Linked DNA regions of Homo sapiens. The protein of the gene in region 1 interacts with the protein of each later gene in a pairwise test. Each region holds a gene or a part of one and is shown on either strand. Other genes may lie near its edges.

Region 1 (7,027 bases):
CCCGCGTGTGCACATGTGTCTGTGTGTTCCATCGCTGCAGTCCTGTGTGGCCCTACCTCAGGGTGTGTGCATGTGTGTCTCTTGCTTCTTCCACTGTGTCTCCAAGTGTGTTCAAGGGCTAGTGTATGCATGTGTGCATGAGTGTCTCTCACCCCACCTTGAGCTCAGCCATCCTGGGGTGGCACCCTACCCATACCCGGCCAAGTGTTTGGGGAGAAAAGGGCTGTTGGTTCTAGGATGTGCCAAGCATTTGTGCAGGGCTTGACCTGACCCTCGGTCTGCCCCCAGGAAGCTCCGTGTGCCCAGCTGGGGCACAGCCCCAGCTGATGCCCCAGAGGGGCCACCCATCGCAAGAGGGGCTTTGGGCTCTGCCCTCCCTCCCCATGGCGCATGGGCCAAAGCCTGAGACTGAAGGACTGTTGGACCTCAGCTTCCTGACAGAGGAGGAGCAGGAGGCCATTGCTGGCGTCCTCCAACGAGATGCCCGCCTGCGCCAGCTGGAGGAGGGGCGGGTCAGGTAAGGCAGGGCAGACCCTGGCCGGGGAGCACCAAGAGGCTTGAGTGGCCCCCATCCTGCTCCCTACCGACACCACTGCCTGTCAGATGTCTGCGTGGTTCTTGGTTTTGCCCTTCAGTCTCCTCTGGCCTTGGCCAGCTCACAGCTCATCACTTCTCCAGGGGTGACTGCACCAGCTTTCTCGCCAGCCTCCCTGCCTCCAGGCTTGCCTCTTGGGCCCACCTCCTGCAGCTGGTGCTCCCCAGATCTGTCTGCTTTTTTTTTTTTTTCTTGAGACAGAGTTTCATTTTTTCGCCCAGGCTGGAGTGAAGTGGCACAATCTTGGCTCACTGCAACCTCCACCCCTCCGGGTTCAAGCGATTCTCCTGCCACAGCCTCCCAAATAGCTGGGATTATAGGCACATGCCACCATGCCCAGCTAATTTTTGTATTTTTAGTAGAGATGGGTTTTCGCCATGTTGGCCAAGCTGGTCTTGAACCTCTGATCTCAGATGATCCACCCGCCTCAGCCTCCCAAAGTGCTGGGATTACAGACGCGAGCCACCGTGCCTGGCCAGATCCGTCCTTAATATCCCCGCTGAAAACTTCCCCTGGCTCCCCAGTATCAAGGGCAAGCTCCTAGGCATGGTCCACTGGGCCTCCCTGGTCGGTCCTTGCCAGCCCCCACCATCTCCTCTTTCACCATAACTCCGACCCGACACACAGACACAAAGTGACCCCTCCAGCCACTCAGGTGCTCCCCAGTCCCTGAACCCACTCTTCACTTCTATGCCTATGCTGGTACTTCTTCCTGGAAGAGCACAGTTGTAGAAGAGCATGGGCGTTACAAGCAATGTTTGGGGACAGACACTTCCTAGCTACGTAGCCTTGGCAACTCACCTGACCTCCTTGAGCACCATGCTCGTCGTCTGTAAAATGGGGCTAAGGAGTCCTACTTCACTGATTTAAGAGGAATTGGCCAGAGATAGTGGCAACGCCTGTAATCCTAGCACTTTGAGAGGCTGAGACGGGAGGATTGCTTGAGCCCAGGAATTCAAGACCAGCCTGGACAACACAGTGAGACCCCATTCCTACAAAATATAAAAAATTAGCCTGGCGTGGTGGTGTGCGCCTGTAGTCCCAGCTATTTAGGCAGCTGAGGTGAGAGGATTGCTTGAACCCAGGAGGTCAGGCTGCAATGAGCCATGATCATGCCACTGCACTCCAGCCCGGGCAACAGAGCAAGACCCTGTCTCAAAAAAAAATAATAAAATTAAAAGTATAATAATTATTATCCTTCTCTACCTGGAGAGTTCCAATTTGTCTTTTAAGAAGAAATTCAAGGCTGGGCACAGTGACTTACAACATTGTGGGAGGCTGAGGCAGGTGGATTGCTTGAGTCCAGGAGTTAGAGACCAGCCTGGGCAACATGGAAAAGCCCCGTCTCTACAAAAAAATATATAAAAAATTAGCTGGGCATGGTGGCACACGCCTGTAGTCCCAGCTACTCAGGAGGCTGAGGTGGGAGGATCACTTGAGCCTGGAAGGTGAAGGTTGCAGTGAGCTGAGATTGCGCCACAGCACTCCAGCCTGGGCATAGAGGGAGACTCCATCTCAAAATAATTAAGTAAATAAATAAATAAAGGCAATTCAAATGTCACCTCCTCTGGGAAGCCCTCCTGGATTCTCACAGGCAGAGCTGGCTCTTCTTACTTCTATCACATCATCCACCTCACTACAGTGTACTTGTCTCTTCTGGACTTGGTCTCCCCAGCAGCCCGAGCTCCTCCACAGCACAGATCAAGTCTGATTTGCTGTTGGGTCCCTGGCCCCTGGTCCCAAGCCTGTTAACAATGTAGGTGGCGGGAATGTTGCTTGGGTGAGTCATGACAGCCACACCCTCCCCCTTCCTCCAGCAAGCTCCGGGCCTCAGTGGCAGACCCTGGGCAGCTGAAGATCCTGACAGGGGACTGGTTCCAGGAAGCACGCTCCCAGCGGCACCACAATGCCCACTTCGGCTCTGACCTTGTCCGAGCGTCTATGCGCAGGAAGAAGAGCACCAGGGGTGAGAGGAGATCCTCGGGGCAGGGCAAGCCATGTGCCGTCCAGGGCGCTGGCTGTATGTGGACAGGGAGAGAGGACCACTAGGGCTCCAGTCCTGGCTGCCCCCAGTACTGTGTGTCTTTCAGTGGGCAATGCCCCTCCGTGGGCATGGGGTGGGTGGGTATCTCCCAGGGCCTCTCCCGAGTCACAGCCAGGCTTCCTGAGCATGGGGGCTCACAGAACTTCTCACCTGCGCCCAGGAGACCAGGCTCCAGGCCACGACAGGGAGGCTGAGGCTGCTGTGAAAGAGAAGGAAGAGGGGCCAGAGCCCAGGTGAGGAGGAGTCTCAGGAAGGGGGAGATGGTGCCCACCAGTCACCAGGGTCCCTCCCTCTGAGAGCGTCCTCTCCCTACTCCTAGGCTCACCATTGATGAGGCCCCTCAGGAGAGGCTCAGGGAGACTGAGGTAAGTGAATGAGCCAACATGTGAGTACAGTGTCCCTGGAGGGGAGGTGGAATGTGCAGGGGGCAGGGGGGAAAGAGCCCCAGCCTGGGAATGGGGAGACCCTGGAAATGTTCCTTCCTGTGTCTGCACCTCATCACCTCCTGGGTGGAACAGTGGTGAACGGTGGGGAACGGTGGTGAATGGTGGTAAACAGTGGTGAACGGTGGTGAACAGTGAGTGGTATATGGACCCAGCCTCTAAGGGAACTTCTGAATCTGGCTATTAAGGGGTGAAGTGGGGCCAGGCACGGTGGCTCATGCCTGTAATCCCAGCATTTTGGGAGGCTGATGTGGGAGGATCGCTTGAGCCGAGGAGTTCAAGACCAGCCTGGGCAACATAGCAAAATGCCCCCCATGTCTATAAAAAATAAATAAAAAAAAAAGGCCGGTCGTGGCAGCTCACGCCTATAATCCCAGCACTTTGGGAAGCCGAGATCACCTGAGGTCAGGAGCTCAAGACCAGCCTGACTAACATGGAGAAACCCCATCTCTACTAAAAATACAAAATTAGCTGGGCATGATGGTGCATAACCTGGAATCTCAGCTACTGGGAGGCTGAGGCAGGAGAATCGCTTGAACCCAGGAGGCGGAGGTTGCAGTGAGCCAAGATCACACCATTGCACTCTAGCCTGGGCAACAAGAGTGAAACTCTGTCTCAATTAAAAATAATAAGAATAAATTTAAAAAAAGAAAAAAGGTTGTCTACCAATGGGTCAATATAAAAAATAAAAATAAAAAAAGGAGTGAGAAAGGAATGGGACTGGCCTGGCCTGGCAGAGGTGGAGGACTCAGGTACGAATGACCCCACCAATGGGAGTAGGGAGTCAGGCGGCACAAGCCCTGCGGGGTGGGCTGTGAAGCACTGGTCTCACCGCTCCTGCAGCTGGCTGCCAGCCCTGCCCGGAGGGCTGCCCTAAACCTGAAACTGGGGTAGCTGGCTGGAGCCCTATGACCTCTGACCCCAATATGACCTTTGACCTCTTCCTCACCAGCCCCCGTACTGTGACCTCTACCCCTTTCTTCCTTCAGGGACCTGATTTCCCATCGCCTTCTGTCCCCCTAAAGGCTTCAGATCCTGAGGAGGCGTCCCAGGCCCAGGAAGGTGAGTGGGAGCGCCTGTTGGGGAGCACGGAGAGGTTTCGCGGGTCAGAGGCAGCTCTAAGGGGCCCCAACCACCTGTGTTCACCCTCGTCACCCCCACTCCCACCCCGCGTCGGAGGTGGGGACGATCCCAGGGCAGCACCGGGGCCTGAATCTGCAGCTCGCTGGGGTTGTAAACCAGTTCCTACAAATTTGCTTAGGGGAGGGCAGGAGAGGGCTCGCTTAGCATCTCGTGCCCCACCCCAGATCCTGGCCAAGGAGACCAACAGGTCTGTGCCGAGGAGGCTGACCCGGAGCTGGAGCCCGCGTCGGGGGGAGAGCAGGAGCCGCGGCCCCAGCAAGCCCAGGTAGGCGGGAGTGGCCCGTGGCTGCTCTCAACATCCGGAGCGGACTCCGGGCGGGGAGCGCTCCTGCCCAGGGCTGCGAGCCGCCCGCGACCCAGGGCGCTCGGGGCAGGGGTGGGGAAAGAAGGGGCGCCCCGTCACTTGCCCCCTCTGCAGACCAAGGCCGCGTCCCAGATCCTGGAGAATGGGGAGGAGGCCCCGGGGCCCGACCCCTCTCTCGACCGCATGCTCAGCAGCAGCTCCTCGGTGTCCAGCCTTAACTCCTCCACGGTGAGGCGGGAGGGAGGGGACCCGGGCGGCCGGGGGGTGGACCCGTTCCGATGCGTAGCCCCTGCCTGCCCCTCCCTCGCCGCGGGACCCACCGCTGCAGCCCCCCAGCCTGCCACCTATGACCCGGGTCTGAAGCCTCCGCGCTGCCCGCGGCCCCGACGTGAGCCCTGCGAGCGGCCCTGACTCCCACCCACTCCCGTCCGCAGCTGAGCGGCAGCCAGATGAGCCTGTCAGGCGACGCGGAGGCGGTGCAGGTCCGCGGCTCCGTGCACTTCGCGCTGCACTACGAGCCGGGCGCCGCCGAGCTGCGCGTGCACGTGATCCAGTGCCAGGGCCTGGCCGCCGCCCGGCGCCGCCGCTCGGACCCGTGAGTGCCCCGCCGGCCAAGCGGGGCGCGGCTGTCACAGCCCAGCCCACCATTCACAGGGTCTCGGCCTCCTCGTCCTCATCTTCAAAATGGGAACAACAGCGTTATTGGGAGGCGTGCGATTAAGCGAGACAATCCCTGTAAAGCGCTTAGCACGAGGCCTGGCACGTGTTCGGGATGGTGGCTGGGGGAGCCCACAGGCAGGGGAGAAGGCTCTGGGAGGGCCCCTCCTCACCTCGGGTTCTCACCTCCCCAGCTACGTCAAAAGCTACCTCCTCCCGGATAAGCAGAGCAAGCGCAAGACGGCGGTGAAGAAACGGAATCTGAATCCGGTTTTCAACGAGACTCTCCGGGTGAGGCTGTGACCACGATGCGGTTCCCCGTTAATGAACTGGACGCCCCCTTCCTGCGGGGCTAGGTGGCAAGGGCAGCCAGTAACGTCATTGCCCGGAGGATCGGCGGAGGGGGCCCATTAACTCGTTATCCAGTGTTGTCAGCCTCGTGGTGGGCGTGGTGATAGTGCAGGTCCCCATTAATGCCCTTAGGGGCTCCCCAGAATTCCATCATGGTAGGAACGCGGTAGGACCTGCCTCAGCCAACTCGCGCAGCATCTACGCGGGCCACCAGCAGTGCTCCACTAAAGCTCACCTCCTGTCCTCAGTACTCCGTCCCGCAGGCCGAGCTTCAGGGCCGCGTGCTGAGCCTGTCTGTGTGGCACCGCGAAAGCCTGGGTCGCAACATCTTTCTGGGCGAAGTTGAAGTGCCCCTGGACACGTGGGACTGGGGCTCTGAGCCCACCTGGCTCCCCCTGCAGCCCCGGGTGAGGCAGCCAGGCCGCGTGGGGAGACCTGCGGCCCGGGTCTCCTGCATTTACCCCACCAGGCTCTCCCGCAGCCCCCTCACACCCCGCCTTCGACAGAACCTCCCCTCAACCTCTTAACCTCATGGCCCCAGGCGAAGCCCGGCCGGCCACGGCCCCTTCCCCGAGGGCGCTAGGACCCCTAGGTTCTGCCCCTGCAGGCCCCGCCGTCTCTTCTAGCCGCACCCCATCCGGGTCTGCAGACCCCACCCTCCTGAGGCCCCTTTCCATTAGCCCCTGCTCCACGATAAGCCCGCCTCTCGCAGGTCCCACCCTCTCCCGACGACCTTCCGAGCCGCGGGTTACTCGCCCTGTCCCTCAAGTACGTCCCCGCCGGCTCCGAGGGTGAGTGACAGCCGGAGAGGCCAAGCTGGACACGCCCTGAAAAGCGGGAGACTCCAGTCCCCGGGTTTGGGGGCGGTGGACTCCATCCGTGTGCGGGCCTGAGCCGAGCCTCTCCGCAGGCGCAGGACTGCCCCCGAGCGGGGAGCTGCACTTCTGGGTGAAGGAGGCTCGGGACCTCCTGCCGCTGCGGGCAGGATCCCTGGACACTTACGTACAATGGTGAGGAGTGCTGGCCCTCCGGGCTTCCCATTCTTTTGCCTGCAGTGGAGTGCCCAACCTCCACAAACCCTTACTAATCAACCTTTGATCACGCAGCCTGGGCTTTCACCACTGAGCAGGGGTGAAGGGGACGGTTTGAGCAAAGGCCTGGAGTCAGGGAAGTTGAGGACACCTTTGAGGAGCTGCATTTCAGCGTGACTGGCGCCTATAGGACTTGTTGAAAAGCTGAGGCTGAGGGCTGCAAGGGTCCTTCCATAGAGAACCTGGGAGGCCAGGCTGTGGGGCTTGGCTGGGAACTTATAGTTCAGTGTAAGCTTCTAGGGGACTTCTAGGGGTGCCTCCAGGTGCTGCCCCCACTGTTAGAGAGTGAAATGGAGGTGGGCGGGTCACTTCTGGGTGTCCACTCTGATGCAGCCAGAGGCTGCAGTACAGAGGTACTGTACTTCTGAGCAACACTGTATTTTGCAGAGGGGGTTCCCA
Region 2 (7,027 bases), on another chromosome or scaffold:
AACCATTTTGATATGCCAACAGACATAAAGACAGAAGCCACTGATTGAATAAGGGATCCATTAAGTTAAGGTCAGACATGCTTGCTCCTACAGAATTTGCTAATAATCCTTGTAGACAAAGTCAGCTGAAGGATGTTAGCCATTACTTCCACAACCAGCTGGAAAGGAACCAGGGAATCCACTTAATGAAAAGATGACTTCTTTGTATATTTTTTTCTCAAAAGATGACAAAATAGTTCCACTATTTTGGCACTAAAGTTTTTGTTTGTTTGTTAGTGGTATTCTCTCTCTACAGGAAATGAGAAAACATCTCAACCATAGGCTGTTGATACAAAGAACTCTGCAGGAAAGCATCTTTGTGATGGTACGCCTTGAAAAACTAATCAAGTGCTTTATGAAAATATCATAAATCTAATTTATGGAAAAATTAGATTTATATGCAATAAACAAAATGTCTCTAAGTGTATCACATTTTTATGCCAACAACGAAAGGTTTTTTGTTCAGATATTTTTACTAGTTTAGTTCTGAGGGCATAAACCTCTACTTGGTAGAAGAAAATGAACAAAAAAAAACTATCTGTTACTAGGTCTTTCTTTATTCGGACTCAAAATCGACCTTTGAAGTATGACCTTCTCCAGGTTCTGCTGTATTTAAGGGCACAATTTAAACAACTTTTAACTCTAATTATCTTTATAGTTCTGGCATGACAATGTCATTGTAGTTGGGTCTCCACCCAGAAATTCTAAGGCAATACATTTATAAAATTCTCTATATATCCAACCAAAATTTGTATCAGTTCTACTTTATGAGACAAGCAGCTTCATGGATTTATAAAGCATTGAAATGACACTCATCCCAGAGAATAGCCTATATCCATTTTCATGTATAAGAGCTCAACACCTTCCCCAGAAATAAGCTGACATCACCTTGGTCAAAGATCCAGAAGAAAATATAGCTCATGGTGAATTCTTAGACAACTTTTGCAAACGTAGGCAGCATCTTGGCATCTTAAAAAATGATAAAGCTTTCTCTAAAATATTCAAATACACTAGACTTCTTTTAATGTCTTAAAGCTTGGTAGTAGAGAGGAAAAAACAACTCTTCTATCACTTTGGCAAATATCAGCTCTTAGACCTTCTTTATAAACAGTTATTATGTATCTTAGGAAACCAGAGACTTGGAATATTATTTCTTTATTGTTGAGTTTTAGATTATACATCCAAAATCCTTTACGAATGAGGATTTTTCCCTCAAACGTTTGGTGTAATATGCAATGAGGAAAGAATTGTGTATCCTTTTTAAATGAAGAGAGATGCAGAACAATGAACAACCTGTTTCATGAACACAAGGTTATACACTATGATTAACTCACCACTGCACCAGTTGCACAATATTGCTTCTCTTTCTAACTGCTGCACTCACTCCACTGGTGAAGAGACAGACAGGCTTCATCAAATTTGTTGATTCCCAGTGTACTCAATTTGCAGCTTAAAGAACATCATATTGTGGCTATTAAATTATTTTTAATGTACTCATGTCCTTCTCTATGGCAAGCATCTCTTTCTTACAAAGGGGACAAGAAAAGGCTGATTAAAACTCTCGCCTGGTTCATCTACCTGTACAGGTTGGCAAAGAACAATTTATAGTAGAAGGATGACAAAGACACCTATCTGGTTAAAAGTAACAGATAAAATGTTTACTTTAGAAATAGCTAGTTTTGAATATTTTACAGGGCGATAGCTGATAATACGAAAATGATAGCAAATTGGATAAAGTGGTAACTGGCAAGAGTTTTAAAACTCTTATGGAGAGACCCACAGGCTCAACTCTTGGCGTTTAGTATTTTCTCTGCCAATCCTTGACTTCTTATCATTATCAGACCAAGACAAACATTATGTTCTCTGGATTATTTTAGATACATTTTTCAAATGATCTTTCTTTTTCTACCCTAAAAGGTAAGCTTGTACCTAATCACAGCTAAGAGTCTCAGGTAATGCCAACTTCATAAGAAGTAAGTGAGGAGACCAAGAGAAGGCAGTTAAACTCTCCAGATTCCAATAAAGTCCTTGCATCCCTTGCTGATAATATCAGAAGATCTTTAGCTGTGTTAGTGTCTCTGTGAGGGCTTCCTATGATATAACATTATAGGAAATGAGCTATGTGGTTGGAGACAAATTTGGTCACAGAGGTATCTGAGGCACCGAGTTAGAGCAATGTAAACATCAAACCAGTGTAAATACTCCAGAAATGGTTTCTATATCAGAAAGGAGCTTCATGTACATTTTCAACATTTCTCCTAAATACGTTTTACTAAAGCATTGGGAGATACTTAGTAACAGGACATATCTTGGCTAAAATTACATGCTGTTGTGGGGTAAATTAGGGGATTTGGAAATCTTTAAAGTAGTCTGTATACTTTATGGCACCAGAACAATTTGAAATTGTAAAATGAATTACACAGAACTACTAATCCTGAAATAATGAGAGAAGGAATTTCTAATAATGATTACATAGAATCTGGGGTCAGATGTCAAACTTTATGGAGAAAATTTTTTATATCAAGCATTTATTTATAAGTAGAACAATATTTTAAATCAATTTTGTCACTTCTCATTCCTCTTGAAGTTATTACCCAATAATTGTTATTTTTACAGGAATAGTCTTGCAATTATGGGCATCATCAACCTCTGCTTCATGCTACAGCTATCAAATAATGATCTTAAAACAGACCCTGAAAAAACACTCATTAAATAACTGACAGTGACAGAATCTTGGCATAAGTAAATCAATCATATAACTGAAAATGAATAGAAACAAAAAGACATATCAAAACAGAATACTTTTAGAGTTTTATAAAGGTTTCACATTCCCTATTAAGGAAATGCAGGGGACATTACAATTTGAATCCAAAGAAAAAATTGATATAATGACCCCAAAAGTTCACCAAAATTTGCCACAGCAGTGGCAATATAACTTGTTCCTGCTCACTTTCCTTCCAGAAGAAACATCTTAAATGTTAGCTTACAGTTTTCTATCTTCATGGCACAGGCATTGAGATAATGAAGAGCATCCCAGAGGAAACACCATGGGAGGGAATACCCAGCCACAACCCATCTTCGAACCTGTTGCGATGCTGCAGAAATCAGAGGAGCTGGCCAGTTAATGCTGAGAATTTCATCAGGGGCTAACAGCATGAAAGCTTTCAAATTATTAATATTTTGATTCATGGCACATTTATGGGTCTAGTCCATCCTAAGAACATTATAAAGAGACATTTCCTTGGATCTGTCTGTGTTTCTGAAACTGATTCAATACCAGATAGAAGTTCGCAGAGGTAAGCTGAATGATGGACTGGGATTTTTAGGGTCTTCAATGTGTATAACTTCACAAAAAATATGCACAGAGTATGGAAAAAGTAGGTTTGATTGGAAAAAATCTATACGACGAGGAAACAGCCTGTCAAAAAATCATATGCTCATAATAAAAAAAAACGAAAATATATTGTCTTTGTTATTTGGTAAAATTGACTGAAATAAATAATATTTTGATAGGAATGGCTTGTGTTTATCAGAAACTAAGATTAAAAATTAATGTAATGTTAGTTTAGACACAAGAACAGAATAGGCCAATGAAAAATAATTTTGTTACTATTTTTTAGAAAGAAAAGGAAGCTTTACATTAACAAAAATACTGGCCAGTTTTTTGTTGAGATAAGATCAGAAGTCCTTCCTCACCCAATCCCCCAAAATACAGCTCAACTATAGGTGTCTTGCCTTTGGCAAAATAAAATCATATTGTAATACAGAATGAGGTATTATCAATTTTTATGTGATTAATGACATGAAAATTCAGAGTGACCATAGAATTGATCCATAATTGTTCCAAAGTTATTGATCAACAAAGTAACACACCTGCATTTCTGCAATTGATTCAAAGTCAGGAATGGGTGAAATTTGGAGGGAAGAAATATGATTTAGTTTCCAGTACTTTTGTAAACTAAAAGGAAACCTGCAATAATTGCCACTTTTTGTTTCATATCACCATCTTATTTTATCTAAAAAAAATTCAAGGCTAGTTTTCCTTGACTGCATTTTAAAAGAGATTTAATAAACCGTAACTGGTAATTTCTCCTTGTGACTATTTTATCAACATGTGCTAAGAAAAAATGAAATGTGAAGCTGAACACCAAACCAATTTCTAAAATTTTGTTTGAAATGGAAACCTCTGGAGTTCTCTTAATTCCAACTGATAATATCAGCTCCTAATTGGCTTGAGTAAAATTTGGCTAAGTAACCCTTCCAGACATCTCTAACAGATACATTGAATTTCAGCTGTAGAAATGCCAATTTCTCATACTTTCATTTTTTTTCCCAGGGTATTTGTCTTGTACTTCATCATTTACAGTCCTGTTCTTGTCAAAGTGCTATTTATTAAGAATATAAAGACGGCATTATGACACTACCTCCTGCATTTTAACAGAAGTGTGACATTTACCTATTTGTAACCTTATCAGTAATTTATTCATTCTAGTACAGCTTATTGGGTGTACATAGTATATCATTCTTAATTAGCCAAATAGAATTCTTCATTGTGTATCCATTTTTAGCTAGTACATTTTCCCCAATGCAAATCTAAAAGTATGCATCTGACTCAATATAAGAAGTAAATCCAATATTTTAGAAATTCTTCTTTCTGTGTTCTCCCTTTAGTGCCTACCCTTTTCTTCAATGTGACAGGTAACTTGTTCTGATTTAAAACTCACTGATATTTCTTCTTGTATATTGTCTTATATACTCATTTTCTCTATAAGAAAAAACAAATTGAGTATCCATGATGATGAGATCACATTGGGAAATCTTTGATCATGTTTGAAAGGGCCTCAGGGATAACTAGTCAATTCTTTTGAACACTGTTGACTATTCTGGTTTCTTAAAATAGATTTTCTGGCAGAAAAAGAAAGACATGCCATTGTGCGTGGTTTACTCAACAACAATTGTGTGGTTTGTCATTGTTTTTAAAAGTAATATTTTGGTGGGGTTCTTGATGTTCAGTTTCTATGTAGAGTCTAGCAGATACATTTCTTCTCTGGTGGCTTTTCCCCATCCAAGTTTCCAGAATTTCCACCATTGACAGTATCAGGGATTTGTGTCTTCTCCACACACTGTTCCATTCGCTTCATGATTAAGTCCAAAAGGGTTTCTACAGCTTTCTCCACATTCTGTCCAGTTGCTGCACTTGTTTCAAAATATGGTATGCTAGCATAGAAAGGATGGCAAATATTTTTGAGAGGAAGAAATCAGAACAGATACAGCAAGATGTACAAGTGAATCACACATGCAAAAACGGCTGGCTGAGAGATTGTGAAATGATTATGGTTTTGCTGGCTAAGTTGGAAAGCATCCTTGTTTTTTCCTCAGTGAGTAAAAATTGGTGAGCTGCTCTTTAGTATGATTACAACCAGTTTTATGGGCAAGGAAATTGACACAAGAGGTAGTCAGGAAGTTGAAGCCAAGGCATTATCACTGTTTAAAAAAATTAGGAGGGGAAAAATACCCTCTGATCAATAAAACTACTGACCAATGTTACTATTAAAATATTGCTTCCCTTCCACTCAATTATCTGGAAATCTCCTTTAAAAAATAGGTATGCATTGAATAAGGATATTTGTGTGAATACAGTCAATGTTTATTTGGATTTAAAAGTTTCAAGAAAGACGTGTAAATTGTACAGCTTTTAGGGAGAATTCTTCCATAAAAAATTGGCAGATATGATAAAACTACTTTAAATTTAAAGAATAATGACAGATTCTGCCACGGAAGTCAATTTACAATTACATGGGGTGTTGTTTCTGTTTTTTTTTTTAAGCTGCCATTCAAGCTCAGCTGGGATAAAGACCACATTTTCATACCCTTGTCAGGGATTATTTCTTGGAGTTTTACATCTATTGATTGAGAGGCAGAAGAATACAGTGTTTAAGAGCATGAGCTTTGATATCAGACTGTCTGGATTGAGTTTAAGCTCTGCCTGTCACTAACTGTGTGGGGTGGCCTTCCATCAGTTACTTAATCTCTCTGTGACTCAATTCTTATATATAAAATGAGATAACTCTAGTTATGATGGGTTAAAATGAGTTAATGTCTAGGAACTGTTGCTAGCACATTATAGGTATACAGTAAATGTTAGGTGCTCTTATTATTAAGTAATTCATTAATACATCATATATATCTCTCTGAAAGATCTTTTTAATCCACATGCTGTTCTTGGTTAAGGGGATTTCTTCTAATATCAATCTAATGTCTCTGCTCCATTTGCTGAACAGCAGTGTGCAAGTCACATGCCATCTCAGTGTAACTGACTTACCCATATTTGTCAGCCAGTTCCCGAGCTTGCCGTTCATTGACTTCCCTCTGATCTGGTAGGTCTGCCTTGTTGCCAATTAATACTATATCTGGATTTTCACAATAAGCATTTGCTTGCAGTTGGCCTTGAAAAGAAAGCAGATGGAACCAGCAAGTTATTGATAAATAAGTGATGTCAAATGACTGCTCTTATTCCAGATTCCTGATCTAATTGCTTATCTCCAGTTTGGTTGCTTACTAGTTATATTGGCCAAGTTACTTCCTCTTCCCAGTCACAATGTGCTTATCTGTAAAACGGAGATAACACCTTACAAATTTCAGATTATGAAGGGGACTAATAATATATATGAAACACCTGTATCAATACCCAACATTTAGTAAATGTTAGGTGCTTTTATTATTAAGTAATTCATTAATACATCATATGTATTCCTTTGGAAGATCTTTTTAATCCATGCGCTGTTCTTGCTTAAGGAGATTTCTTCTAATAATATATATGAAGCACCTCTGTCAACACCAAACATTTAGTAAATGTTAGGTGCTTTTATTATTAAGTAATTCATTAAAACATCACATATATTCCTCTGGAAGATCTTTTCAATCCATGTGCTATTCTTGGTTAAGGGGATTTCTTCTAATAATACATAATACACATACATAATAATAA

What was found. The genes of interacting proteins can lie anywhere in the genome.
Region 2: the proteins of SYTL1 (region 1) and RAB27B interact in a two-hybrid assay, tested with the Homo sapiens proteins (one study listed by BioGRID).

The regions. Positions count from the first base shown.
Region 1 is NC_000001.11:27,345,009-27,352,035, forward strand, and holds part of SYTL1 (synaptotagmin-like protein 1), read left to right. Parts: intron 1-288; coding exon of another isoform or gene 289-326; coding exon 327-517; intron 518-2,412; coding exon 2,413-2,561; intron 2,562-2,796; exon of another isoform or gene 2,797-2,799; coding exon 2,800-2,872; intron 2,873-2,958; coding exon 2,959-3,004; intron 3,005-4,071; coding exon 4,072-4,144; intron 4,145-4,389; coding exon 4,390-4,490; intron 4,491-4,643; coding exon 4,644-4,757; intron 4,758-4,963; coding exon 4,964-5,124; intron 5,125-5,380; coding exon 5,381-5,477; intron 5,478-5,785; coding exon 5,786-5,944; intron 5,945-6,249; coding exon 6,250-6,328; intron 6,329-6,447; coding exon 6,448-6,547; intron 6,548-7,027.
Region 2 is NC_000018.10:54,887,453-54,894,479, reverse strand, and holds part of RAB27B (ras-related protein Rab-27B), read right to left. Parts: intron 6,486-7,027; coding exon 6,362-6,485; intron 5,257-6,361; coding exon 5,067-5,256; 3' UTR 1,489-5,066; coding exon of another isoform or gene 1,407-1,488; 3' UTR 1-1,406. UniProt on the Homo sapiens protein: Small GTPase which cycles between active GTP-bound and inactive GDP-bound states. In its active state, binds to a variety of effector proteins to regulate homeostasis of late endocytic pathway, including endosomal positioning, maturation and secretion.